2 separate regions of the Homo sapiens genome follow, and region 2 is linked to region 1. A link means that fine-mapping ties the variant in region 1 to the expression of a gene that starts in the linked region. Tissue or cell type: blood mononuclear cells. Region 1 holds a variant in brackets; the other region holds the start of a gene. All regions are shown on one strand. Distances are between the middles of the regions.

What was found. PIP is the estimated chance that this variant, and not a neighbour inherited with it, causes the effect.
Region 2: SEPTIN4 starts here. The variant in region 1 is fine-mapped to the expression of SEPTIN4 in blood mononuclear cells (TOPMed, PIP 0.97).

Annotation. Positions count from the first base shown.
Region 1 is chr17:58,496,428-58,499,114 of GRCh38, forward strand. The region is part of intron 14 of MTMR4 (myotubularin related protein 4); the gene reads right to left. Among named protein-coding and RNA genes, the nearest start is that of HSF5, 9.4 kb to the left of the region's middle. The variant A/G (reference allele first, on the strand shown) is at 1,543.
Region 2 is chr17:58,543,027-58,545,713 of GRCh38, forward strand. It overlaps SEPTIN4 (septin 4), which reads right to left and starts at 1,302. Exons shown (of 14, transcript NM_001368771.2): 1 at 1-1,302. The coding sequence starts at 1,160. It overlaps SEPTIN4-AS1 (SEPTIN4 antisense RNA 1), which reads left to right. Exons shown (of 5, transcript NR_110810.1): 3 at 431-572; 4 at 1,510-1,645.

The sequences.
Region 1 (2,687 bases):
AGAAATAATGACACTTAAGAACACTTAAGTTTAGAAATAAGGACCCTTAAGATCACAAATAACCAATGTTCACTGAAAGTTTACTCTGTAAAAAAAGCATGAGACATGGACCGTGTCCTCCGGAACCCAAAAATCTATCCTCAGCTTTTGTCAGCACTCAACCTACCAGTCTCCCTGGGCAATCTCAACCACTACAGTGGTTTCAGCTGCCTTCTATGCCAATGCCTTCTGAATCTACTGTTCCAGCTAGGACTATACCTGAGACTCAAACCCAATATCCCACTGCCTCCATCACAGTAAAACAGAAAGAAGATGGGTTTTGGAGCTAGACAATATTGGCTCTGACGCTAATTAGCTACATGACTACAAATAAGTAAATTAACCTCTCAGATACTTGGTTTCTCCCTTTATACAATGATGATAATAAATCATACCTTGTAGAGATGCTATGAGAATTCAAAATACAGGCAACCAACCACAAACATAATAACCACAAACTTTATTAAGACAACACAACTCCCTCAACACTGCTCTTGATAACCACTTAGCAGCAGTGTGCTCCTCTGCTTCCCAAGGCCCCATGAAACTTCCCCTAGTATATAGCACTCAGAGTTCTAGAGGCATTCATATATACCAGATAGGTTAAGGGACATTTTCAAGAGTGACCATCCTGATTATTAATGCAGTTCAAAGTCCTTAGAGCAATGAAAACTTGAGTGAAATTCACCAGGGAAACAGTAGAGGCTTCACTGGCCTCCTATTTTTAGATGGCTCAGTCAGTTCAGCCTATGCGGAAAAATTCCCCAAAGGCAGTTACAACGCAGCTTATTTTAAGTAATCGGTTTTTGAAACTTAAAACAAATGTTTTATACATACTTGATATACCTTTTGTGACGAATTTTGATTTTTTTAATGGTACGAAATTCCAGGAAGGCAATAACAGTGGTTATCATTATAGTTCCTGGAGTCCCATAGGCAGGGTTCAAATCCCAATTTAACAACATCTTTGCTGTGTGACTTTAACTTCTCTACGCCTCAGATCCCTCATCTATGGAATAAAGGTAAAGTACCTAGCTCTTAAAGCTATTATGAAGATTAAACAAAAGAATCCACATCAAAGCACATTGCTCAGTGCTTCCTATAACACATTATTGCACTTTATTGTTTACTTGTTTAACTCCCTCTACTGAAGTGTCCTGAAGGCAGGACTCTGTCTTATTTGAATCCCCAGCGCCTAGCACAGTACCAGGGGCAAATGACTTGAGAAATGAATGAATGAGCTCAAAATACAACATGAGGTTTCCACTGCTAGGTGCCAATTGAATGTGTGATACACATCAGGCATCTTAGTGGATCTTCTTAGACATCCAGACAACCAGGGTCCACCCAAGACCTACTGAATAAGAATGGCCAAGAGTGGGGCCTAGGGATCTGTATTCTTTTAAGTGCCACAGCTGACTTCTTTCATTTTATTTTTTATTATGGAAACTTTCAAGCATACAAAAGAAGTAAAGAATATGCTGGGCACAGTGGCTCATGCCT[A/G]TAATCTCAACACTTTGGGAGGTCAAGGCAGGCAGATCTCTCGAGGCCACAAGTCCAAGACCAGCCTGGCCAACATGGTGAAATCCCATCTCTACTAAAAATACAAAAACTAGCTGGGCATGGTGGTGCATGCCTGTAAACCCAGCTCCTACTTGGGAGGCTGAGGCATGAGAATCGCTTGAACCTGGGAGGCAAGAGGCAGAGGTTGCAGTGAGCCGAGATCGCACCACTATATTCCAGCCTGGGTGACAGAGCAAGACTCTGTCTCAAACAACAACAAAAAGAAGAATATAATTAACTTCCATGTGCTCTTCATCCAAATTCAAATAACAACATTCTGCCATCCTCCACAACTCATTCTATGTGTACCAAAGGTTAGTCAGCAATGTTGACAGAGATAATAATACCTGAGTTTACAACAAGGAGAGAGAGCTCATCCAGCTAGGAGGTCAAGGAAGGCTACAGAGAGAGGGTAGGATTTGAGATGGGTATAGAAGAATGTGTTTATGACTTTAATGGAAGAAGAAGAAGAAGGAGGAGGAGAAGGAGAAGGAGAAGCGGGGGAGGAGGGGGGAGGAGGGGGGAGGAGGGGGAGGAGGGGGAGAAGAAGGAGAAGAAGAAGGACATTTTTGATCTAGGGAAAGGTAGAATCAAAGGTAAGTCAGGTCAGTTGTTACAGAGACCATTTCCTTTAAAATCTTTATACCAATTATTTCTCGAAATCTACTCTCCATCTTGAGCTGCCTACAACACACCTCCTTCTTTGCTGTCAACTAATATTTCAATCCCAATTTCCCTGTATCTCCGCTTTCTCCCCAAACTGGCTGGTCTTCTCGACCTTTCAATGTCTATTAGTGGTACTAATATTCTCCTACTTTTTAAGCTCAGATACTTGGGACCCAAAGTACTTTTCACTTCTACTCTCCAACTTTCAATTCTGTAGCCTGCCAATGGTTCTCTACAGTGCTTCTGAATTTAATCCTTTCTCTTTGCCAGGGACTCTTCCCCTCATATCTGAACTACTACAGCAGTGCTGGCTGGTCTCTGTGCCTCCAGCTACCCTGTACTCACTGATTAGTTCTCCAAGGATCCCACTGTCAGCAGACCACAGTAACTTCCTACAATGACTTCCTATTGACAACTGA
Region 2 (2,687 bases), 47 kb after region 1:
TGGGACATGTAAGTAATTTCTGGGGGTTTTTGGGTTTGCTGTTTATAGATGGGCTCTGGAGTAACAAACATGGATGACTTGTGGGAGCCCTCAGACACTGATGGAACTGTCACATGGTGAGTTGGCTCTACTGACTGTACCCCTGGGGAGATGGTGACCCTGCGGCCAACCTCGCTGTTTCCTCGGATTGGGGTCCTCACGTTGGACTCCACCTGTGATGATACTAAGACCTTTGCGGAGGGCTTGGTTTCAGGATAGGCAGAATACTTATGAAGAGACTCAGGGTCTACCCGTGCAGAAACTCGGTGTACACCATCAGAATCTTTAAGGACAGAGAGTTTGAGCAATGAGTCCAAGTTCATATTCCTATACAAGGCCTTGGGTTTTGAAGGAATTGGACCGTAAGGACCTGTTTCTGATTCTTCTACAGGGACCCTTCTCTGGGCTGTCTGATAGTCTGCAGAGACACAGCTGCTTCCGTGCTCTAGGAGAGAGGGACTCCTTGGAGATCTGATCTCACTAGTAGTCGTAATTCTTTGGATGGGCTCAGTTTGTACTGCTTCATCCTTTGGGTAAGACAAAATCCTACGGGGAACTCTGACTCCTTGGGGGTTCTGGACCTTGGATGGTGGGTCATCTTCTAAGATTTGTGATTGTAAGTTATTCTTCTGGTCTTGAAAACTCAACTGATGAGTAGATTTGGCATCTGGGATTGATGAAGCATGATGGCCGACCTCGCGCCCTGACTTGCTCTCACTGCCTCTTCGTGCTGCTTCCTCTCTGGGTGGACTAACTTTCCATTGTCTGCTTGAAGCATGGGAAGCCAGTGTCTGAGTCTTCTGGCTCTTTAGATGGGGAGAGGAATGGCGGGATGATTCTGTTCTTGGTCCAGTCTCGGGTCCCCGAGGAGTGGGTACTGCATAGTGTCCAGGTCCTGACTGGAGGGAGACAGATCGAGGGTAGTCTGATGCTGAATGGGGAGTGGTGGGATGTGCAGCTTCTGATCTTCGGTGGGAAGGGTTCAGGGAGACTGCAGCACTTCGATGGCTTGAGGCAAGAACGTACCCATGTCCCTGCTGAGGGGATGTGTTAGTAGTAACCTCAGACCCTCTCTGTGCTGAAACCGCTACCTTGGCCCCAGGTTTATTTGTCTTGACCATCTGATAGATTGTGCCCTTCTGAGTAGATCCCGTATTTTACTGGCTGGCTTGTATTCAGGATCCTAATGATGCCTGAATATTTACCCTGTTTTAAAGCTGCTGTTTCTTGGGCTCCCACAAAAGTGGCTGTTGTTCTAAGAGTGTCTCAAATAATCCCCTTAGCTACCTCTCTGTCTGGTGATGTCATAAAGGAAGGAGCTTCCTTCCTATTAAACATCCTAGTGTACAGCCACAATTCTTCACAGAATCCCAAAGAAGTACCTGAAAGGAATCTGTGGATTTGTCTTTGGAGTTATATCACCAAGCCTTTGGCAAGTTTTTAACAAAACTGGGATTTCCTTGTACATAGAGAAGGCTCCAGACCCTCCTTTACTCTCCCGAGATTCTAGAAATTCTCAGGACTCATCCAGAGAAGGAATCAGCCAGAAGATCCTATGAAGACAAGATCAAACCAAACACGCTGTGTTCGCCCCAGTTTTAATAAGGTACGAAGTACAAAGTTGCCCCAATTTTGTTTGAAACTGTACTGTATACAAGTTAAAAAAAAAAAAAAAAAGAGAGCTTCAGCTTTTTCCAGGTCTCATGGATTGTTTCATTGCTCCTGGGGTAAAAATCCAGGTTGCTCAAATAATAAAATTCTCACATTCTTGCTCCAGGAGAGTTTAGTGTTTTATTAATAAAAGGGATTTGCCATGTGCGGTGGCTCACGCCTGTAATCCCAGCACTTTGGGAGACCGAGGCGGGTGGATTGCCTGAGGTCAGGAGTTTGAGGCCAGCATGGCCAGCATGATAAAACCCCGTCTTTACTAAAAATACAAAAAAATTAGCCAGGCATAGTGGCAGGCACCTATAATCCCAGCTACTCAGGAGGCTGAGGCAGGAGAATCGCTTGAACCCGGGAGTTGGAGGTTGCAGTGAGCTGAGATTGTGCCACTTTACTCCAGCCTGGGTGACAAGAGCAAAACTCCATCTCAAAAAATATATATAAATAAAAACAAAATAAAAGGGATTTGGGCTGGGTGCAGTGGCTCACACCTGTAATCCCAGCACTTTGGGAGGCTGAGGCGGGTGGATCACCTGAGGTCAGGAGTTTGAGACCAGCCTGGCCAACATGGTGAAACCCCATCTCTACTAAAAATACAAATATTAGCCAGGCGTGGTGGTGCGTGCCTGTAATCCCAGCTACCCGTGAGGCTGAGGCACGAGAATCGCTGGAACCTGGGAGGCGGAGGCTGCAGTGAGCTGAGATCGTGCCACTGCACTCCAGGCTGGGTGACAGAGCAAGACTCCATCTCAAAAAAAAAAAAAAAAAAGAAAGAAAGAAAGAAAGAAGGAATTTGGAGTTAATCATTGGTTTCCATCATAAATGACTACAGGTGTACCTAGGAGAAATTACCTGCCTTCCCTGGGACTTGGTTTCTTCACCTGGAAACCACTGCCTGGTACATGGGTGTCACACAACAAATGTTAATGTCCTTTCTCATGATCCTGTCAGCTATCCAATCAGCCGGACTCCGGTTCTCTCTT